3 separate regions of the Homo sapiens genome follow, and regions 2 and 3 are each linked to region 1. The links come from fine-mapping of genetic effects on gene expression. A gene starts in region 1. Each other region holds a variant in brackets. All regions are shown on one strand. Distances are between the middles of the regions. Region 1 holds the start of STAC (SH3 and cysteine rich domain). Region 2 overlaps STAC (SH3 and cysteine rich domain). Region 3 has its middle 210 kb from the start of STAC.

Region 1 (8,175 bases):
CTTTCTATGTTGTCAATAAGTCAGTAGGAGAAAAGATATTCATTGAAATAAGGGATAATGGGACATGAAATTTTTGTTTATATTCAATGGTCTCTGTCAAGCCCTTAAAAAATAAATTAGGCTGTCATCTTTCTGAAATAGTTAGTGGGAAGATAGAAGGGTATGATACATCAGTGGCTTTCAAACTTATTCAACTCAACTAATTTCATAAAGAAGAAAACCCACAATTACATTAAACTATATTATGACTTGTGCTTACAGAAATTTGCTCTGAGGAAACTGTACTGGGATACCAAAGTCCAAGACGGGGTTTGTAGGTAAGGGTATTGCCAGTAACTATCTGTGTGATCTCAGGCAAGTCACTGCCCCTTTTTGGGCCTCAATTTCCTCAAGAAAGAGAAAAAGGACATTAAGATAACCTTTGAAGCTATAGACCCTTTGTGAACCTGAGATAAGCTATAAATTCTTTCCCTAGATGATGCATATATGCATGTACATGGACAACTTTGAATGCTGGTTCGGGTTGTTCACAGATTTTCCAAAGACTATTTGTGGGCTTCTAAAGAATATAGTGGCCCTTAGCTTAAAACACCTGAAATATGTGCTAATTGGGATTATAGTCATGTTTATGAAAATAAAATGAAAATAACCCTTATCCTTGAGAGATGTAACCTGATAGCATATTTACGGGTGAAGTTATTTCATGTCTGGAATTTGCTTTAAAATGATCCAGTATGTGTAGGGTGGTGGTGGTGGTGGTAATACATAAAACAATACTGTCCATGAATTAATTGTGAAGCCACATGATTAGGTCCATGACAGTTCTTTATACTGTTTTCTCTACTTTTGTGTATATTAAAATTTTCCATAATAAATTTTCACAGTGAAAATGATCTAACCTTTCTTGGCTTCCACTTCCCCATCCATAAAATAGAAATATTAACAGAATCTTCTATTGTGAAGATTAAGGTTGTATCTGACTTACAGTAAACATTCAGTAGATGCTCACTATTGTTCTCGCTCAACTATGTAAATATATAAACAGATTTAAAAAGACATGAGATATAGATCAAAGTTTTATTAGTAGATGCTTCTGGATGGTAAACCAAGAGCTAATTTATTTTTCTTTTCATCATTTATGTCTGGACTGTTCAAATATCTACAAAGAGTATTTGTTACTCTTATAATAAGACAAAAAAACCTAACTCTTTAAAAAAAGTAACTTTAAGTCTTCCTTGAGAGAGTTTAATGCCAAGGGGGCCTGAACCATGTTTGTCCCACAAGATATTTTACAAACAAGACCACTTCATGGAAGAGTAAGATGGAATGCATATTACTGTCTTGTTCACATTTTCCTCACCAAGCTCTCATGCTCAGGGTCAAAGATCCTTGTAAACGCCAGTAAGCTTTAACATGTGGCCTTCCTAGAATAGAATGAATTGAGCCTTCCTCTCCTCCAGTGTCATGCCATCCTACTCCCTTACCTTACCACACGTTCCTCCCTACTAGCAGTTTAGCCTTTTTTAAGGGGCATGGATCACTTTGAGAATATCATGAATGCTATGCCAAGAAAAATTCACATGTAGGCATACAATATTGCATTCAATTTCCTAGGGTTCATGGGCTGCCATAGTTCATCTCCACTAATTAAGCTTACTGAGGCCATGACATCAAATTTAGGAATGTAGAAACACACATCCGGTGTATAGACCACTTTGAGAAAAACTAATTTGTACAAAACCATAAGCCAGATAAATTGGTGGATAATTATGGGCATTACATATGTGGCTTTTGCTCTGCCAAATAATTTCCATTAGGACATCTATAAATAGCAAATCCATATAATGCATTTGAACCATGCCACTGTTTGCCCAAATGCTAAGCCCTTTCCAGAACACGCCTACTGCAGAGCAACAGGCCAATTCAAAAAGTTCAATACTAGTTTTACTCTTGAGTTCAGCTACATTCATTTATAGAATTCTAGCTTTCCTCTAAAATGGCCACTAACCTATATCACTCTGGGGACTGATGTTCAATGGGAGGCAATGATACCCAGAAACTTTTTGACTGAGGAGAGGTAGTGCATGTGTATGGGTTATCAGATTGCTTTGGAGTGGATCATTTGAGATGAGATAGATTCCATCTCTTTATCTCAGGAAGGAAAAGGATAAACATGATTGAGTCCTTACAGTATACCAGGTGGACATTAGGGCCTCTCATGTACTCCTCACAATGTCTCTGGAAGTTGGGGCTTTTTCCCTCATTTCCAACCGAGTTTTAGAAAAGTTGACACACATACCCCAGGTCTGGCAGCCAGTAAGTAACAGGAAAAAAATAAAAATAAATAAGATGTAAAGCTTTCGGGCTTAGATTACCATCATTGATGGTTAACTTCAGGGGGCTGGGAAATGTACAGTGCCCAGTATCACACCAAATCCCCAGAGCCACTCAGGCTGTGATTTTCATCCTCCTGATCATATCAATGGCTTCCAGGGATGCATGTGAAGAGAGACAGGATCGCAGTCTTCCTTGCCCCATCTGGCCTGTCCCTATCCTATAAACTGGCAACCCCTTTCCTTTGCTGGTATACACGGACTGCCTCACATTCCCCAAATGCCTGGGGATCGCACAATGAAATCAGAATAAAGAGCCAGGAGCTCTACACTTAAAAGAATCCACATAACTACAAACTCCATCTTAGGATTTCCACCACCAGCTGAGTTGCCATTTGGCATTGCACTGCTAGCAGCCACATTTTACTCTATCCTCTTCCAAGATTTTCAAACATGTGCCTGGCACCCACGGGAGTTTCAGAGGAAGTGTAACAGTGACAGGAGAACTGCTGCGGGCTTGGTTTTTTGTATACGTGTTAGTGTAACTTTCATAAAAGCAAGTATAGGTTCTTAGAGTATTAACTTTCACAAGAGGAACATCAACTTTCAGACAAACGCAGGCAAACCCTTTCTTTTTCTTTTTCTTTTTTAGTGAGTAGTATCTGAAGGTAGGGGTGATCCCTGTTAAGCAAAAGGTCTCTGAGACCCTTGGGATACATACATGCTTTTCTGGCCCAGTACTCAAGCTTTTCTGGAAGAGTATCCCTCGGCTGTCTCCATCCCTCAGCCTTCAGAAGCCACCTAATACCTACCTACACGTGCTTTGGACACAAGCAGGTTCAAAGCACAAAAAAAACCAAGCTACCACCCCGCAAGAAATCGATCTCTGAACCCGGAGCCACCATGAATTGCGTGTGTGAATGTGTGGGCGGGAAGGCTGGGTCCACAGGGACGTGGTCCAGCATCGTGAGCAGCGGGTCCTACCGGACGTTCAAGTCCTACAGCCCTGGGCTAACTAGCAAGTCTCAGACCCCCACGCCCGTGCTAGATAGGAGGAGAGACAAAGCTGGACCGACAGGAGAGGAGAGTGAGTTTGTGTTCTCTTGGGGGCAAGCGTGCTCGGTACCTTGGATTCCTGGCTGCTGGTGGATGCAGGAGAGGGCGGTTGCTCGGCGCCCACCGCCTCCTTGGGCAGCCCGTCCACGCCGTCCTCGCGGGGGCTGCTCGGAGGGATCATCGTGGCCGCGCGGGAACGGTGTTGGGCTCCCGGAGGAACAGCGAGGCTTCTGTCCTGCGCGCCCTGCCCGCCGCGCGCCAGGCTGCTCAGCTCCGGGTCCTGGGGACTCCCATCCTCGCCGAGGCGCCGACGTGCCCTCCTCCAGCCTCGCTCCCTCTCCCTCCCCGCCCTGCCCACCTCCCCGGCACTTCCGCGGGCGTGGAGGAGAGTGCGCCCTGCCCCGCCCCGCCGCGCCCGCGGCCACCTCGCCGGCGACCTCACAGTCGTGACTGCCACTCGGCAGCGGGCGAGCGGGCTTCTGCTCGCCCGCAGGAGGAGGAAGGAGGCGGGGAGGCAGCTCCAGGGCGGGGCTGCGCGGCCAGCGCCTGGAGTAGTGAGGGCAGGCAGGGGGCAGCGCCCTGGAAAGGGCTGGGGGAAGGCTGGGCGCACGCCGGCACTGGGTGGGGGTGATTCTTCAGAGAGGATGCTGAAAATTCAGACCCAAACCCCAAAGAATAGAAAATCTGTGAATGATATAGCCAGAAAGAGCCACTTGCAACAACTCCCTCATTCCTCACCCCAACGAATAGTGACTGAGACAGTGACTTAGCTAAGCTATTTATAGGGTTCAGTGACAGAGAGCAGGGGTCGGAGTGGGGGTCCCCTGACTCACGGGCACTGCGTTTTCTCCATTCAGCTTTGATCTAAAGCAGAGAGATAATGCAGTGTGTATATGGACACCTGTTCCTCGTTTGTTGTGCACTTATTGTACTAAACCCTTTCTTTTTACCTTATTTAATCCTCCCAGCTACTCTATGCGTCTAGGGATTATCACTTCCATTTTATAGATGAGGAAGTTGAGGCTGTAGGAAGACTGAGTAATTTGCTTTAAGTCACTAAACTATAATTGGTGAAACTGGAATTCGAACACATTTGGGCTTCAAAATCCATGCATTTCCGACTGTGGAGCCTCAAATCTAGGCCAGGTCTTGGCTGAAGAGCAATTGGATGTTGCAGTATAGCAAGAGTTGAGGACTGTTCACAGAGGGGCAAACCAGCCTGCCTTACTAAATCTTTTGGAAACATAGGAATAGCCCCACTGAATAAAGATACAGAGGGTCCAGTTTCTTTTGAAGACAACCTCAGTGTGCAGGGAAAAGAAACACACCTAGATATTTAAAAGCCTCTTTTCCCCCATTAATACAAAATACCCTCAATTTTTTAAAACAAAATTGCAAACTTCTGTTCAGATTTTTAAAATTAGCTGTAGATGTTTGCAAGAACAGCTTCATGGATGTGCAACCTGTGCAGTCACACAGGGCCCCGCGCTGATGCTGCCATCTTGAAATTCGGTAAAAATATTTAACAAGAGATCACATTTTCATTTTGTACTTGACCCTGCAAATTATGTGTTTGGTCCTGCATCCATGCCCTAGCTCATGTCTTTTAGAATAAACTTGCTCTTACTCTTTCCATCCCAGATGTCAATTGAAAGCTACTGTTCAATGTGTCAGCCTCTTACTCAGCATTTAGCTTTCAAAATGCTCTAAATTTTCTGGTGACCCTCAGTACGGGGCCAGATTGGCTAGCCCAAATGGCTTCAGCTTTTTCCTTCTCACAACACAATGCCTGAGTGTTCGATAGAGACAGAATTCTAGTAGCCAAAGTCACAAACACAATGACAGGAGCAGCCATATCAACACATTTTTATCAAGCATCTATTCTGTATCAGAATTGTGCCAGAAACTAATGATACAGCAGAGAGAAAACACAGATTAAGTCTGTTTTCCTGGAATTTAAGTCTAGTGGGAGAGACAGCAATTAATTAAATCACACACACATTTAAAAAAAAACTATGATAAGGGAAAGTACAAGACTTTGATGAGTGTGTACAAATGAAGCCTGAGCTAGCATGGGGCCAGACGAGGGTTTTCTTAGGAAACAAAACTCCCAGGGTCTACTGGCAATTCCAGTCTTGGTGAGCAAGCATGTCATGGCTTAGAACAATAAATTTTTCATCCTTTTTTTCTTTTGGATTTTCTTTTTTTAAGAATTGAAGATGTCATCCTTACTTTTAGTAAGTGCTTAGCTCAAGTTAGCAACAGTATTAGCCAATAGTATATGTTTAAATGTTGTCCCTTGAAGGAAATTTAGAGAAGCTAGTACCTCCTTCCTTTCCACCCCACCCTGATCCAGCAGCAGAAATCCTTAGTCTGATAAATAATACCTACCATAGGAATTAGCCATGGTGTCCCAAACTAAATCACGCCTTTGTTTATGTGTTAGTTTCACATTATTTTCTATCCGATCTTTTGTTATCTAGCTAACTTATCTTATTCTTCAAATCACATATCCAAGTATTTACTACTCTTGACATCTCCTTCCTTGACCCATTTATCTGATTTAGATTCCCAAATCAATGCCATGTTCCCATGACTTCCTTTCCTAAGTAATCAATGACAAGGTTGCCTGCTCTTCTGTTGGGCTATGATCTCCCCTAGGGCAGGGGCAATGCCATGTTCATCTTGTTTCTCTAGCTCCTGGTATAATGCTTGTTAACAAGGTGGTGAAAAGAGGCTACCCTTGTAGCCCCTGAGCTCTAGAAATGGTCTAGGCATTAATTATTGCATGTGTCCTCCACAAACTGAATGGAAGAAGACTCTGAATGCTTCTGTAAAACAATGGGATTTGTCAGTGCTTTGAGTCAGTAGATGGTAGACCAGCAAAGTGATCCCCAGAGTACCCCTCATGAAGCATTGATATCCCTGAGCAGAAGTGTACATTTTCATGGCTATGTGTGAGATACCCCATCTGACACCCAGGAATGCTTAGGTGAGACCTCACAGAAGACTGGAAATTCTGCCTTAGAAGCTTTATGACATTTTAGCTATGGTTGTCAAGATTTCTCATTTCTACTGCAGTCTGGTAAAGCCTGAGGAAAAAAGGTTGTGAATAATTATTCTAAGTCTCAAGTCTGTAGCTTTGTGATTTTTGTAGATCCCCTTCATGGTCTATTTCACTCTGGTTTCTGGGTAAATATCAAGCCAGCAGAAGTGTGAGGTGTACAGAAATTTATCTGCACAAACTCGAACTGGAAGCTCCCACTTCTGGTTCATTTACTTGTTCATTAATTTGTAAAGAGGGCAAAGGCCTCCTCCTGATTGCATCCAAGGGCCTTTCACAGTAAACACCGTTAAGCAGAAGACTGTGTAATGCTGCTAACCTTCTCTCATTTCTTTGTTCTGAGTTTGTATAAAGAGACTGGATTTCATCCTATGGACCTTGGCTTCTTATAGAGCCATTTGGTAAAAAGATACTAGTAAGACTTCTTAAATAGAACAGATATACTTATGAAGGGTACAGAAAAGAACAACAAGAAAAAAGAAGAGGGAAGATAATATGGAGAACTGTTGAGGATAAAGGAGAGGATCTCAAGGAAGGGATGGCTCTCCATGCGTGATGCATCAGAGTCATGATGGATACACAATATAACACAGTATACGAGAAAGGCGTAGGTTGCTGATAACAATAATAGCTAACATGTATTGGGTTTCTAATACATCATAGACATTGTATATTTGTTCTTTCATTTAATCCCTATGAAACCTTAGCAAGATAAAGAAAATTATCCTAGGTTCTACAGTTTAGGAAGGACTCAGTTATATCCTGCTCCTGGGCCAAGTTTTGGCCGCTCTGGTTTGCTGCCACCTAGGCAACAGCAGAACCCGGATGTCCTGAAAAGGCAGCAGGCCTTAAAGATTAGGAGCAATGCAAATTGAGAGCCAGAGGCATAATAGAAGGCACAGGGCAAGTTCCCAAATAATGAAGAGTGGTCCATTCCATTCTTTTGTCTTAAAAGTAAATAATGAGCATCTCTACACTTTGGAGATGATAGCCAAGAAGTCTAGACAAATGTAAGCAAGAGGCATCCACTTTTTTTTATTTTTTATTTTATTTTATTTTATTTTGAGACGGAGTCTTGCTCTGTCACCTAGGCTGGAGTGCAGTGGCGCGATCTCGGCTCACTGCAACCTCTCCCTCCCAGGTTCAAGTGATTCTCCTACCTCAGCCTCCCGAGTAGCTGGGACTACAGGCATGTGCCACCAAGCCCAGCTAATTTTTGTATTTTTAGTAGAGATGGAGTTTCACCATGTTGACCAGGATGGTTTCCATCTCTTGACCTCGTGATCCGCCTGCCTCGGCCTCCCAAAGTACTGGGATTACAGGCGTGAGCCACTGGGCCCAGCTGGCATCCACTATTAGCATCACTTGTCACCCTCTAGATCCAGCCTAATGGATCTGCCTTCAAGCTTAGAGAAACCAAATGCTTTGCCCAAAGTCTAACCACTGACACTACCGCAACCACCACCACCTCTTACTTTGAACAGCTGCTAATGCTAGGCTTCGTTATGGTCTCATAGCAATTCATGATTGGTCTCTTCTCAGAATCAAAGCTAATAATTTAATTGGGAGACTCATTTTTGTGAGGGCAAATCAGATACAGCTTAAGCATCCTTAACTTGTTTTTCTAAGCACCAATTAGTAATAATAACAACAATAATAGTTGATCACATTGTAAAGCACTGTTTGTCTGCATTCGAGTTATGTCCACTGGAGGTTCCCAGA
Region 2 (8,175 bases), 21 kb before region 1:
TTTATTTAAAAACATCTATCATCTATTTACCAATTTTTATATATTTTTTACATGAATGTGTACACATGTTGTTTTGTGACTTTCTTTGTTCATGTCAGATTATAGGCATATTCATAACAAATTTTAATAATATTTTTCCATGCTGTGGGATATAGTATATTGTACTTAATCATTATAATTATGATACTGATAGAAATTTGAGGCCTTACTAATTTTTGCTGTTATAAATACTGCTGCATGAACATTATCATACATATGAGTATTTATATACATGAGCATAATATGATGTAAACTAAGATTTGTGGGTGCTATTATCAGCTGGTAATTGTGCTAAGTGCTTTGCATGTATTATCTCATTTAATTCTCACAATTACCCTTTGAAATAGGTTTCATTATGATCCCAATACTACACGGGAAGAGAATGTGCCTTAGAAAGTTTAAGTAATCTGCCATTAATTTCCTCAGAAGAATGGTAGACTGAATTTGTCAATTTGCATTTTAAAAAAGACTTGTTGGTATATGATTGGAATCAACTTGAGCTTACATATTTATTTAGGGTGATTGACATCTTTACAATATTGAGTCTTCTCATCTAAATGTCATGTTTTTCCATTTGTTTAGATCTCCTTATTTGTTTTTCCATAATGCTTGCATGTTTTTTCACATAGGACCTACATATTTCTTGTTAGAGATATTCATAGGTGTGTCATAGGTATTGTTGGTGTAAAGGAATTTAATGGAATTTGTGTTTTGTATTTTGAGCTTGTAGCATACAGAGTTGTGTTACAAGATAAAATATAAAATACCTTTCAAGTCAGAGTCACTGTGCAAAATTGCTTTGTTAGTGCTTTATCCAGGATTTAATTTCTATCTATGCTCTTTTGGGAGACATGTTGATGACTTGTTTTTTTCAGAGTCATTCAAATGACTCAGTATTGGATTCCAGATTCCAGAATGAATAGACTTTCTGCTCAGAATCTGAAACCATGGCACCCTTGACTTTTACTCTCAGTTTGATGCCCCTCTGAGTTTCATCATGATAAGGTCACCTGTTTCTTAATTTCTGGAAATATTAAGGATTTTATCTATTTTTGTAGTTTATAAATGTCACATGATTTTACTAATTGTGTATGCAGAATTCTTTCCATTTTATTTTTCATTTTTTCACATATCATTTTTACATTTTTTGCTTTTACTGTGTGGCACTTCTATTTTACTTTCATTGCTCATTCCTTATTGAGTCCTTTCAATTTGAACATATAACTTTTTTTCTACTGAATTTTTAAAATTTTTTTCTATTAAAAAATTTTCCACTAAAATGGAGGTGAAGAGATAATTAAAAATAAAAATAGAAGAAAATTGAGAATTAAAAAAAAACAAACTGTTTTTTTCCCAGTGGAGATGACTGACTGGTTGACCTGTGTCAACTTTCAATATTTCAAGACCTTTCTTTTATTAATTATCTGTCGTTTGTTCTATGTATTGGGAGATTTTCCAACTTTATCTTTCATTTATCTGATTCAGTCTTCAGAATTGTTCATTCTATTTTTCAGGCCTTGCATTGATTGTTTTTAAATTACTTATTGTAACTGACAAAAAAATTAGACAGAAATCTGATTTTTCCAAAAAATTCATTCCTAGGCATTGATTGTACCTTTTTAAAAGAAATAAAAAACAGTTCCTTTGAAATGGTCACAATACTTCTTGAATCTCTCTGAAGATATCAATTAGAAAGTTTTCAAGGCTAGCCATAATCCTTGTGTTACGTCTTATTTCTCTGGGTTAGCTGTTTGGTTTGTGCACAGTGGTCCTTTTGGTTTATGCTTTAGTTGTCTGTTCATATTTAAGGGTGAATAACTAGCTTGATCATATGGGTAGCTAGAATGAGTTTCCTCTGCAGATAAGACTCTGAGTAGATAATTCCCCTGAATCCATCTGAGGTGGGAAGACGGACAGGCCAACTTTGCTTTAGGATACGTGGGTGGGATCAAGCAGGCAGGATGGAGACTCCCACAAATGCCAATGTATGGAGGCTTTTACTCTGGAATTTGAATGTTTTCATTTATACTCCTTCTTATTATTCCTGTATAGAGCTGCCTTCTGTTTATTATTATTATTTTCTTGCAGTTTACAACTTTTGAAGTCTAGAATTATCTTGGACTCTGTTCCCTTGCCTAGCCCTTAAATCCATTTTGGGTGACTTCCTAGGCTAATGTTAGATGTTGTTTAGACAGAAATCTTGAGCCTTTAGCATTGAGCAAGTTAACTAAGTGCTGTAAGCTTCTAGCTCTGCATCTGTAGAGTGGGCACAAAACCAAGGCTTCTTTGAGAGGGTTGTTGTGATGATTAAACAGAATAATGCATACAAGATCGTATGTAGTAACTGTCCAGCACATGCTCACCTTCCTTCTTCCTCACCGCCCTCTTTCTCCCCATCTTCTTCCTCGCTCTTCCCTTCCCTTTTCCCTTCCTTCCTTCTTCTTCCCCTCCATGTCTTGTTTCTACTTTTATTATTATCATTATACCAGGATTTGGACCATTTTCTAATTATCTTATTCATTACATTATTCACTCTTTCTTTGGCTTTGTAGGGAATAGAAGTTAAAAACATATGTAAGAGCTTTTCCTACAAGCCAATACTGCTTCAGGAATATGAATGTGGAAAAGTTTAAAACAAAAACAAACAAACAAACAAACAGGGACTTAGAGTCAGAAATGAATCTCAGTGTAGACATATCAGGCATGTGACCATGGGCAAGCGGCTTTACTTTTCTCAGCCTCCACCTCTATAGTTTTGTCATCTGTGAAATGAGACTAAATAAAATGATGTACCTAAATCACCTTGCACAGCAAGTCCAAGTGAAATGTCCATCCCCTTTCCCCTTCCCTTTCTCTTGTTCTGCCAAACTGTGCCATGATGATCATGCTGCAGACCTGCTTCGTGGATGAGATCTGTGTGTGGGTACATGGGGCCCAGCACTTAGATGGACCCCAAGTTTGGTTTAGTGCTTTTTGCTATTGCTGTCTTGAA[T/A]TTCTTCAAAATGTTTGAGCAAGGAGCTCCGATTTCCCTTTGCACTGGGCCCCGCAAATTATATATCTGGCTCTGCCTTCTGTGATTCAATTCATTAAACAATTCATATTTCTGTCTTGCTAGTAGACAGGGAGGAAGCAGGTTCCCAGGTGCCCAAGGACAGCAGCTGGGGAATCCTGTCTATGGCTGCAGCTCTTCCAGTGTGATTTCTACCCAAGTTCCTAAAGCAGCCAGTGCGGGCTTCCTTGGGTTCCCTGCAGCATTTCTAACTATAGTTCCAATTTGACACACTGGTTATTTTCTATCGAGGTCCTTAAGGTAGCTTTCTGCAAGGTTTTGGAAATAAAGCAACTCATTGCCTTTTTGTTAATGACTTTTAAAAGAATGAGCATTTTACTGAGCATAAGAAACCCTCTAAGAATATACTGGAAAAGGCAGGCTCATGCTGTGGATGAACAAGAGTGTGTCCTTCAATGTGAAATCCCTGCCAAGGAAATGCATAGCTGGGAGGTTCCCTTTGCCTCTTTCATGACCTGGCTGACCATCTGTTCCTTTATTTCCAGAAGGAATGGAGACTCTTTTCCACAAAAAGTGACTCCAAAATGTAAACATAGGTACATTTTTAGAGGCTTGACTCCTGAGTAGTTTCAAAATAAACACAAAACATTATAGGGAGGTTTCAGTGAGCTAATCTCAGCCATATGAAGCCGACATCCTTTGCCTTCTTTAACCAAGTCCACAGCTGGGGAAGAAGGGATGGTGTATGAAAGGTTGGACTAACCCATTATGGTCCTGGCACTTTCCTCCTTGCTACATGAATTAATTCTGGCCATCCATGGAGTGACAGAGGCTATAATCGGAGCCCTTTCATATGAAGGGAATATCTACAGACAAGCCTGGGTCAAGAGAACACTTGCACGTAATTATGGTCAAAGCAATAAACAAATAGGATGGATATCACAGGCACTCAGAGTAGGTATTTACTTCTATGGCAGTGGTGCTCAAAGTCTGGTCTCTGTATTACTAGCACGAGCATCAGCAGAAACTTGTCAGAACTGCAAAATCTCAGCTCTCTCCCAGTACCTACCAGATCAGAAACTCTGGGGATGAAGTCCAATAATCTGTGTTTCAATTGGCCCTCTAGGTGATTCTGATGCACTTCAGTTTGCAGCCAACTGCTCTATAACATTCTTGAAGGTCATTATAGAATGTCCCAACCCAGCGTATAGGTCTAAATATTCTGTCTTGTGGATTTTGCTTGTAGTATGTGTGTGTTATTGCGAGAATAATTCAAGCTCTGTGAGCCTCAGTTCCCTCAACCCTAAAATCATGGGGTTATCTGTGATGATTTCAAATGTTCCTTTACATTATATTTTCAGTGAAATGAGATTCAGAATGCTCCATTAAGGCTCTCGAATAGTTATATAACACGTGGACAAATGACCATTTGACAGTAGCTGAGCAGCAAGTGCTGTGTGTCTATTTATATATTTCTATCTCTGTATCTATCCATTTATCTCTCTATTATCTATCTGAATCTGAAACATAGTAGCCCAGGTTTGGGAGTCAGGTGACCTGAATTTGACAACGAACTACTTATCCTGTGTGAAACTGAGAAACTCGCAGGGGATGAGACATTGAAAGCAAAGTGTTTAGTGCTGGGTCTTGAGCAGGAAAGCTTCCACAGGTCACTCACTATTACTTTACTGCTTGTACCTCTTTCGACCGGGGCATCAACCCACCCCCTTTTAAGTACTTTAATCCTTTCTTTCCATTTATTAATTTCCTTCAGTGTTTTCCAAAGCACTTGCACATGAGTGCCTCCATTTTGCCTGGGGCTGCCTAAGTCGTAGAATTAGCAGTGGCTGGTCAAAGCTGGCTTAACCTTGAGGCACAATCCAGGTTGACTCCAGATCTGGGCTTTGATTTATCTATGACTTCAGTGTCAGTTGGGAGACCATTTTAAAAAACTGAATGTATATGAGTCAATTTAATTGAAATTTTTCCAAGATTCTCGAGTAAGTTACCCTAGAGCCATGGTTTTTTAATAAATTGAGTTATTTTAGATTGAAGGATGGCCATATGAGGGGACAAGATCACTAAGGCTGTCTTAGGAGAGCAGGGCAGCTGGGCCACCTGTCCTCCATCACTCAGCACTTTAAATTGGCCAAATGAAATCTTGCCAAGTGCTATCCCTCCCCTCCAAATGGTGTTTTCTGAGAGGAAACACCCTCCCTGAAAATCTATAGTTCACACTTTCTGCTATGTTACTCAGTGTCGTGCTAGGGGTAACCACCCAGTTCCTAGGGCCAAAAGCCCTTATAGACTTATGTCAGGTGTCTATCAACCCATTGTCAAATGCAGCACTCTTCTTTTGAAGCAAAAATTGTAATAAAATTCCGAATATTGGAGCATGGAAAAGGGAAACGACTGCTCTGGCTAAAGAGGCACAGACAGGAACCCACTGTAGAGGGTGCTGTGGGTGCCCAATCCAGACCCTCCCTGTTGGGGCCCTTGCCCTGTCTCCCAGTGGCTTTGGCAGGCAGATCTCTCTTCCTTTAGAGAATCACCCTCAACTAATGGGAACTGTCCCCTTTGGGAGATTGTACTCCCCTCCCTCTTCCATTTCTAGAGCCAAAGACTAGCTGACACAAAGTTAAAAAAAAAGTCCTGCCATATTTCCTTAAGGGAGGGGCAACTCTGGTGCACTCTGTACCCCATGTGGGTCAGGCCAAGGTAAGACTTCACGTGAGACCACATTCTTGTTCAGCCCTCTCTCCTGCTGTATCCTACCTAGGGTTTTCTCCTGACAGCACACCTTCCATGAATTATATGCTTCTGAACCTCAGGCTCTGCTTTTTAGAGACCTCAACTAGAGGTGAGGAATAAGGGATGATAGAAAATCTGAACTCAATACCTTCCACAGCAACAGCAACCTGTATGTCAGAAGGAGGCTCCTTCAAGTCAGATGATATGATCTGATGGGTGACTGTTTTCTTCCCTCCCTCCCTTCCTTCTCTCTTTTCTTTCTTTCTCTCTTTCTTTCTTTCTTTCTTTTCTTTCTTTCTTTCTTTCCTTCCTTCCTTCCTTTCTTTCTCTTTCTTTCTTTCTTTCTCTCTCTTTTTCTCTTCCTTCCCTCCTTCCTTTCTTCCTTCCTTCCTTCCTTCCTTCCTTCCTTCCTTCCTTCCCTCTCTCTTTCTCTTTACCTCTCTTTCTTTCTTTCTCTCTCTTTCTTTTTCTCTTCCTTCCCTCCTTCCTTTCTTCCTTCCCTCCTTCCTTCCTTCCTTCCTTCCTTCCTTCCTTCCTTCCTTCCTTCCTTCCTTCCTTCCTTCCCTCTCTCTTTCTCTTTACCTCTCTTTCTTTCTTTCTCTCTTTCTTTTCTTTCTTTCTTTCTTTCTTTCTTTCTTTCTTTCTTTCTTTCTTTCTTGCTTTCTTTCTTTCTTTCTTTCTTTTTTAACATACCTTCATAGATGGCAGTAAAATAGTCTTACTACAAAGCTCATAAACTGGCAGGTAACATTTTAGTCTGACCATCAGGGGATGAGGTCAAATTGCTGCTCTCTTCATGAGCTTCCTTCTGTTTCACAGCTGCTGCCCAGAGTCTGGGAACCAGATGCACGGGCTCAGAGAGCTAGATTCAGGCTCTTCATTTAGCTGTCCAACCAGGCTATGGACAAACTTACCAGTGAAGGTCCAATTGAGAGCCAGGAAAGATCCTGCCATGGAGCTAGATGGCTTGGCATTTTGCTCTTGGCTCCTCAGACACAAGTTTTAAATATCTCCCATCATCAACACTATAATGTATTACAAATTGAGCTTAGGTTTTTTTTTTTTTGCTGCCTGCTGCATGCAAAAGTCATCCTATCGGCAATCTATGAAATAAACTTTGCCAAAATAATCCTAACCACAAGAACGAACAAAGAAATAACATATGAAACAACTTATATTGCTTTTTCAGACAAGCTCATAAAATCCTTGAAATTCTAAGAGCACTTGGGTGATCCAAAGTGGATTGAAGTTATTCCTCCTGGAAGGAAGATTTTTCACAATGATTAAATATCTGCACAATTTGGAGGCTTCAGTAGTCTGAGTGGTGGTCTGACATGAGGCCTCTTGATTTTACATCATGTTCTTTCTTGTATTCATGGGAAGAAGCATAAACTGTATGCTTTATTTTTGTAAACTGGATTTTTCTTCTTTTGCTATTTTTTTGGTCTCATGCAACATATTCATGACACATTTATTTTGATCATTTTCACTTACAGTATATATAACTGAATAGAAGAGATAGTGCCCAATATGGCAGCTTAAAAAGATCCACTCAGATATTTACAATAATGAAATCTTATATTTGAGAATTTATTTCTTCAATGTTAATTAGAAGGTCAGATCCATCGAAAATAATGACCAGTAAACTGATCAACACATTAAGCAACCAGCAAAAATGTATTAATTAAATAAGTCAGTACCAGCAACTTTAGCTTAATTGATTTGTCTTCTAAACAAGAGTTAAGAAATTTCAAATCTATCAGGAACTCAGTATCTGACAAAAAGACTTATAGGAAACATAACCAAGAATCAGAAAATATAAACAAAAAGTCTGAACTACCAGATTAATCACTAAATAAAAAACAAAAACAAAACACAAAACACTAAAAGACAAAACCGTGTTTACTTTTCTGATAGTCCATTAGGCTCAGTGTCCATTTTGTTTTGAGGAACAAAAAACTCCAACTAGTTTGGTGATTTATTTTCCACTACAAACGCAAATTAGCAGAAGCAAATTAGAAGCCTTAGAGTAGACTAGAGAGAGGGATAGACTCTGTGTGGGAGGAGATAGTAAAATGTAAGAATCAGACACAAGAACTAGGAGAGAACAGCAGTATAGAGTCATTAGTGCGAGGAAAAAACTACCCTACATATAATAAGTTCAATAACTGGCATTCAGAAGAGTGATTCTGAGTAACTAGGAGAAGGAAATTATAAAAACGATAAAATTGCTTTGAAATTTACAAAGCATTTGCAACGCTGTTATTATATGGGAATGAAATTACATTTGGTATATTCTGCTTTTAAAAGCAGGGAAATGTAAGCCAGAAAGATTTACAAGCAAAATTATCAACAGGAAAAATGCTTGGAACATT
Region 3 (8,175 bases), 210 kb after region 1:
GGACTCTGCAGAAAATCTCATGGCTGCCAGATTCAGCTAGAAAAGCTCATTATCAGTGTTTAACTTATTTTTTCTAATGCTAGTATATGTCCCCTAGTTTCCTTTGTAGTCACACCTTGAAGTGGAAGTGCCCTTTTTTTTGTTTGAGATGGAGTCTCGCTCTGTCGCCCAGGCTGGAGTGCGGTGGCACCATCTTGGCTCACTGCCAGCTCTGCCTCCTGGGTTCACGCCATTCTCCTGCCTCAGCCTCCTGAGTAGCTGGGACTACAGGCGCCCACCACCAAACCCAGCTAATTTTTTTTTTTTTTTGTATTTTTTTAGTGGAGACAGGGTTTCACCGTGTTAGCCAGGATGGTCTCGATCTCCTGACCTTGTGATCCGCCTGCCTCGGCCTCCCAAAGTGCTGGAATTACAGGCGTGAGCCACCACGCTCGGCCAAAAGTGCCCTTTAAGTCAACAGTCTCACCTTTCAGGGCAGGCAGATATGAGATATTACAAATATATTGTAACTCTGTGGAATTAAAGTTGACTTCAGAATACAAACTTCATGTACCAAAGTAGCATTAAGTTTTCTCTCTTCAGAAATGCAAATCAAAACCACAATGAGATACCATCTCACACTGGCCGGAATGGTTATTATTAAAAAGACAGACATGTATGTGGGACTTTCATTTATCAGACCCCAGGAACTCAAGCTTTCATGAGCCTCTGGGTAGACAAGTACCAGCCCTAATCCTTGGGATGGATGGAGTATCACAGGGAGCAGGCAGCCCAGCTATACAACCTGGTGCAGGGTGGTGAGTTTCCTCACCTTTAAGTGTATGGACCATCAGGTTCTGGAAAAAAGACAAGTGCTATGTGTGTTCTACATCAACTTTATGGTGTTGGAGTGGAAAAATTGAGAATTAAATACCAGACCATCAGGACTCCATCTAAAAAAATTGAAATTAGCACCATTGCAAGTAATTACCACCTTGAAGTTAATCCCAGTGATGCTGGAAATATTGATGAGGTAGTAATTCAGAAGATGTTGAAAACAGTGGCTCAGTCACAGCAACTTGAAACAAACTGTCAGATATTTTAAAATGGTATTATTGACAGAAGTTGACAAACTCATCAAAGATGCTCAACATGCCTTGTAAAGAACCATGGGAAAGTATATGTCCACCTACAGATTGATCTTGTGCCACAGTTCTACATCTAATGTGATACTACCTATTTGTAGTAGGTGCTTGGCAGTTGGTGTGCCTGCTCCCAGCATTGGAGATATTTACCATGTGTTATTTACTGTGTACAACAAGGAAGATCTGAATCTTCCTTCACAACTGACTCATAGACTTGCAGAAAAGTCCTGCAGAAACCTCACAAAAGCCCTGCTTATGTGTGAAGTAGGATATCACTAGAGACCTCATGGACATTAAAAGGTTGATAAGAAAATATTATAAATAAGTCTAATCATATAAATTTGACAATTTAGATGAAATAGAGATTCCTTAAAAGCCACAAACTGCTGAACTCACTGAGAATATATATATAATATATAATTAATAAGTATATGTGGGTGTAACTTATATATTAAACCATTTCTATTGAAGAAATTGCATTACTAGTAAAGAGAAAAATCAGAAAGTCCTGAAAAAGAAAACTTTCTGTTCAGATGGTTTCACTGGCAGTGTAGAAAAGGCAAAATCTGCAAGATTGGTAAAGAAAAATTCCCTAGAGAAACCTGAGAAAAACAAGCAATGGGGAAAGGATTCCCTATTTAATAAATGGTGCTGGGAAAACTGGCTAGCCATATGTAGAAAGCTGAAACTGGATCCCTTCCTTACACCTTATACAAAAATTAATTCAAGATGGATTAAAGACTTAAACATTAGACCTAAAACCATAAAAACTCTAGAAGAAAACCTAGGCATTACCATTCAGGACATAGGCATGGGCAAGGACTTCATGTCCAAAACACCAAAAGCAATGGCAACAAAAGCCAAAATTGACAAATGGGATCTAATTAAACTAAAGAGCTTCTGCACAGCAAAAGAACTACCATCAGAGTGAACAGGCAACCTACAGAATGGGAGAAAATTTTCGCAACCTACTCATCTGACAAAGGGCTAATATCCAGAATCTACAATGAACTCAAACAAATTTACAAGAAAAAAACAAACAACCCCATCGAAAAGTGGGTGAAGGATATGGACAGACACTTCTCAAAAGAAGACATTTATGCAGCCAACAGACACATGAAAAACTGCTCATCATCACTGGCCATCAGAGAAATGCAAATCAAAACCACAATGAGATACCATCTCACACCAGTTAGAATGGCAATCATTAAAAAGTCAGGAAACAACAGGTGCTGGAGAGGATGTGGAGAAATAGGAACACTTTTACACTGTTGGTGGGACTGTAAACTAGTTCAACCATTGTGGAAGTCAGTGTGGCGATTCCTCAAGGATCTAGAACTAGAAATACCATTTGACCCAGCCATCCCATTACTGGGTATATACCCAAAGGATTATAAATCATGCTGCTATAAAGACGCATGCACACGTATGTTTATTGCGGCACTATTCACAATAGCAAAGACTTGGAACCAACCCAAATGTCCAACAATGATAGACTGGATTAAGAAAATGTGGCACATATACACCATGGAATACTATGCAGCCATAAAAAATGATGAGTTCATGTCCTTTGTAGGGACATGGATGAAATTGGAAATCATCATTCTCAGTAAACTATCATAAGAACAAAAAACCAAACACCGCATATTCTCACTCATAGGTGGGAATTGAACAATGAGAACACCTGGACACAGGAAGGGGAACATCACACTCTGGGGACTGTTGTGGGGTGGGGGGAAGGGGGAGGGACAGCATTAGGAGATATACCTAATGCTAAATGATGAGTTAATGGGTGCAGCGCACCAGCATGGCACATGTATACATATGTAACTAACCTGCACATTGTGCACCTGTACCCTAAAACTTAAAGTATAATAATAATAAAATAAAAAAAAAAAAGAAAATCCCCTAGGCTAGGCGAACTTTTCTTTATTACTTGGTCTACCTCTAAGATTTATCCAGTCAGGCTTTACAGTGCTGTAGTTACAGGAGAAGACCTGGAATGCTGGTCCCTGGTGGAGTAAAGGAAGGATCTGTCCACCCAGAGAGCTTAGCCCTTTTTATAGTCCATACTATGAATACTGAGGACCTTGGAATTCCTTTCTCAAGTGAGCCTGAGCTTGCTTCCAGGGTCTCCATGGGTCTCCTTCTGAGTTCATCCCTATACTCATGAGTTGTCCTCAGAAAGTGTAAACAGAGCTTGGACAGGGTTAGAGGTGTTCACACAAACATGCAGGAAGACCTGTGCAGGGCAGAAGGGAGAAGAGAGTGAGAGGAGGGAGACCCAGGCCTCAGCTGGGAGCCAGGGACTGAAGACTGGCTCTCCTCATTAGACCCTTATGTTCTAGTGGGAAATTCCATGGGGTTTGAGAATTCTAAACTTGAACTTGAAAGTCATAAAGGCATATTTTTTAGGGTAGGAAGAGAAAATGCATTTTATTCAGTCATTTGTTAACTTGATGAATGGCTTTTAAATATCTAGGCATAGGGTAAATTGTATTCATTTGTACTCTTGTCTTGGGTCCCACAATGTAAGCACCAGGATGGGTTGGTGAGGGGGCTTTGTTTACTAACAAATTTTGAGCTCCTAGAATAGTCCCTGGCACAGTGGGCACTCAATAATAATTTTGAATGAATGTGTAGATGAATGAATGAGTTTAATCTTCCTATGATCCCAAGAAGAATTCCAGATATAAAGAAAGTGGCCTAGTTGAGGGTGAAGAATGGGAGGAGGGAGAGGATCAGAAAAAATAACTATTGGGTACCAGGCTTACTACCTGGGTAACGAAATAATCTGTACAACAATACCCCCTACCCATGATGCGAGTTTACCTATATAGCAAACCTGCTCATATATCCCTAGACCTAAAATACAAGTTTTTTTTAAATAAGAAAGAAAGTGATACGTGGACATAGAGTGTAGAATAATAGTCATTGGAGACTCAGAAGGTTGAGAGGAGAGAAGAGAGGTGAGGGTTGAGAAATTACTTAATGGGTACAATGTACACTATTTCACCTATAAATATGTTCACATAACAAAACTGCCTTTTTACTCCTTGAATTTATACAAATTATTTAAAAGGCAAATATAAGCATACTTTGTTAAAAAAAGTGGTAATAAGAAGTTACTGACACTTGATAGAAGAATGAATATATAAAGGATGACTTGAGAAGGAAAATCCTTTAGGGTGTTAGACATAAGGAATACGCTCTTATTTGCTCTGATGGACCGTGTAAAACTTAAATCTATGAGGCCATCTCAGAAGAGCCACCTGGGCCCCAGTGGACTGTCACAAGCTGTGTTTCAGGAATACCAATCTTAGTCATTTCCTTGGAACTTGTTAAACCTCTGCC[A/G]TGAGCCCCAACCTTGAAGTGATGCAGCAGTGACTCAGACAGCCTCCCTCCCCTCCAGGACTTTATTCAGTATCTGCCTTGTTTGCCAATGAGAGGCTGATTCTCAAAAGAAACTTTGGCTCAAATACGATACCTGAACAAAGAATCTCAGCATTGAAATAACCAATGGTATTCTTAGAAGAAAATAAATTTGAGAACGTAATGTAAGAAGTTGTAGTAGAACATGTTTGTCTCATGCCGATAAAACTTCTCCATTTACCATTTGAATCTAATTGAAACAGCATTTTCAAAAAATCCAAACTAGTTATGTGCCTGTAACACACAGTCATGGTTATTACTCAATTTCAAGATGAATTATTTTCAACCATTCACTATATCAAGGGGAAAATGCAGCCAACAAGCAATTTAATTATTTAAAAGAACATTGGAGCAACTAAACTTTTTCTACAATTACCACATGAGTAAAACAGAAGGACAGAAAGTAATGTGTTAACTGTTTGCCATTAAAATGGCTCATTGAGTCTCTAGCAATCATATGGTACAAATAGGACATTTATATAACATGCAAATACAGTGCCCAGAAAAAAATCAGCGGCAAACTTTCACACAGCTCATTGACTTATGGTCTTTAATGAGGAAGCCACAATGGAGCAATTATTTCACTGATAACACATTTATTATCGCTGTAATTTCCTCCTTAGCTCTGTTAACTGTATTATTAAATAAATAGCAATACTCATGATTTCTTTTAAAATGCAACTAACTGCTATGTAAAGAACAGTGAAATACGATATATTTATAAAAAATGAATATTTGTTCACATTGTTTTTGAGTTAAAAAATCTGTCCCTTAAATAAGACAAGCAGACACAAGATACTGAAACCTGACATAAAAATAAGTTTTTATGTATATATTTACCCAATGTGCACAGCACAGAGCTATAGAATTGCTATTATTGATTATTCAGCAAAATAACATCTTTTGCCTTGATTACATGTTTATAAAGGAAAATTGAAAAACTCATGTAGATTACAAAGCTATTACCATAACCATTCTACTATCAACATAGAACTATGAAAAATGCAATTTACAAAGTGCTAAGTACACTTGTACACTGTACCCTATTATACTTGTATTAAAGTTATTGGAGAAAACAAAAGAAAAATTATTCTAAAATTGGAAAAAGGAAAGAAAAATTTCCATAAAAATAAAATTTTGATATGTAAATGGGATTAGTAGCATAGTAAGTTAATAATTTTCCAATTTTAATTATTATCCAGAGTTTGCTCTTCAGTTGACTATATGCTTTCTGTGTGTGTATGTGTGTGTGGTTTATTGCTATAGCATTGTATGTATACAATCATCATTATATATCCTTAACAGACATAGAAATACTAGAAGAACGTAATCACTTTTTCTTATGTTCGGCTTCCTTAACTTATCTTTAAATATGCCCATGCCATTTTTAAATTTATGTTATTATCATTTTTATCTCTAATATATCTTTTTTCTTCTTTTGTTTTTTTGACAGGATCTTGCTATGTTGCCCAGGTTGGAGTGGAGTGGCACAATCTTGGTTCACTGCAACCTCCACCTCCTGGGCTCAAGTGATCCTCCCAACTGAGCCTCTCAAATAGCCAGGACTACAGGCATATGCCACCATGCTTGGCTAATTTTGTATTTTTTTGTAGAGACAGGGTTTCTCCATGTCACCCAGTCTGGTCTCAAACTCCTGGGCTCAAGTGATCCACCCACCTTCACCTTCCAAAGTGCTGGGATTACAGGCATAAGCCACCATGCCTGGACTATTTTTATCTCTAACATTTCTTTATTTTTCTCATAGTCTTCCTTTTATTGCAACCATTTGCAATATAATCAAAGCACTATTTTTGCTTTTTATCACCTATGGATATTAATTCTTTTTATGTTTTCTTCTATTCGGAGTATTGCCTCTTTTTCTTCTGTTTTTTTCTCTGTTTTTTGAATTTTTTCTCTGACCTTCATGTTAAATACTTTCTCAAATGCTTAATCATCCTAGGCTCTTAGGAACATACATCAAGTTGATATTTGGCAACTCGCCATGTGATTTTGTCTGTGGGGCATACGGTGTGGTAGTCATGATGGTGGTGGGGCAGTAGTGCCTGTCAACTGATACACTTCATTGTAGATTGATCAGAAGGAAACCCAGGCCATTTATTTGTGGGATTGCCAAAGGTCAATTGCTGTCAGTCTTGGATTCTTTCACCTCCCATTCAAGTTTGCTGTTATAAAGCTGACTTTGGGGTTTAGGATTTGAATAGAGAGAGAGAGCTGGGGACTCAATTTTCAGCAGACAGATTTTCTCTTAATCCGTTATTTTCAGTATCGGAACGTCACCCCCAGCCTTCCTTGTACCTCGTATTCTCAAGGCCCATTGCTTTTTCAGTTAAGACCTTGGGAGAGTAAACATCCAGGCTTCTTCCAGAGTGGAGGAGGGACAGGTCCTTGGGGTTCTAGGAAAGACAAGGAGATCTAGATTTCTCACTGCTCCTTAATCAAACTTTCAAGTACGTTTTCTGTTTTTCTGTTCCCTCTGACTTTCCTGACTTCAGAAGTACCTGATGTAATAAATATGTGTGTATCTGAGGGTGAGATGGGGCTATGGCGAGAGTTATCTTGCTTATTTTTGGCAATTCATACCCAACCACCACCAGCAGCTCACATGTTATTGTGTCTTCTCTATTATGTCAGTTAAATTACTTTCTACTTTTATTTATCCTCCATTCTACTTTTCCCATTCTCTCTCTCTTATTTTATGGATTTCTTGCACTTTAATGGGATATAGAAATCTCAGAAATAGTTATAGTAATAGTGGTAGTATGCTATTTCTAAAAGCTGAATAGGGAGTGATGAGAAATCAGGAAAAATCAACAAAGAAGGGCGGTGGATTGGATGGTCTGATGGCCTGTGCCATCAGATCTCTTTAAATAAAGAGATTTTCCTTGTGGGGGTTTGTGAAAAGGGAGGATAAATAATCCAGCAATAAGCATTAAGAACAGCTAACCCTCTTCCAGGCCCTGCAGTACTTGGGTTGTGAGCAAAAGAAGCAGCTATCACTAAGAGGGTTACCAAAGAAACAATCTCCTTGAGGTGGGCCAGGTGCCAATGAGCTCTGGAGGTGAAGGAAATTCAATAAAAAAGAGGCTGAGGAAGTTGGGAATTTTGTCAATGCCACGTGAAGTGTTCCAGAAGGCATAATGGAAAGGCTTGGGAGCTTGGTAAAGAGTAAAAATTTGGCTTAGGTTATGAACGTTCAGAGTCCTGTGAGGAAAATATCCTAGTGCTAATGGATGACTTGAGTTGTTTGGACAACCAGCAGTGACCTAGATAGTGATGGGTGTAAGAATTAAAGGGCTTGTCCTGGTGGTTCATGGAAAAGATGAGTGATCACTTTTAACAAGAGGAGGCTTCTCAGGACTGGCCTTTTGTGTGATTGGGATTGGTGAGACAGGTGATGGTGTGGCTACAGGGACTAAGCCAAGAGTATCAGGGGCCCGGGGTGGAATCTCTCATGTTTAGGAGCATATTGGGCTCTATGGCCTTCTTTATAGATTGAAGTAAATGATGTGGTTTACCCAAGCTCACCACGAACTCTAAGGCCTCCATCCACCTAACTGTGACCTAAATCTGCCATCAGTGATATATGCAACCACAGAAA

What was found. PIP is the estimated chance that this variant, and not a neighbour inherited with it, causes the effect.
Region 2: its variant is fine-mapped to the expression of STAC in blood mononuclear cells (TOPMed, PIP 0.91).
Region 3: its variant is fine-mapped to the expression of STAC in fibroblasts (GTEx, PIP 0.95).

What each region holds. Positions count from the first base shown.
Region 1 is chr3:36,376,039-36,384,213 of GRCh38, reverse strand. STAC (SH3 and cysteine rich domain) reads right to left here and starts at 3,710. Exons shown (of 11, transcript NM_003149.3): 1 at 3,460-3,710. The coding sequence starts at 3,570. The region is part of intron 2 of LOC124906227 (a long non-coding RNA gene); the gene reads left to right.
Region 2 is chr3:36,396,604-36,404,778 of GRCh38, reverse strand. All of the region lies in intron 1 of STAC (SH3 and cysteine rich domain), which reads right to left. The region is part of intron 2 of LOC124906227 (a long non-coding RNA gene); the gene reads left to right. Among named protein-coding and RNA genes, the nearest start is that of STAC, 20 kb to the right of the region's middle. RefSeq lists an enhancer at 5,760-6,260. The variant T/A (reference allele first, on the strand shown) is at 3,032.
Region 3 is chr3:36,162,974-36,171,148 of GRCh38, reverse strand. It overlaps the pseudogene RFC3P1. Among named protein-coding and RNA genes, the nearest start is that of STAC, 210 kb to the left of the region's middle. The variant A/G (reference allele first, on the strand shown) is at 4,479.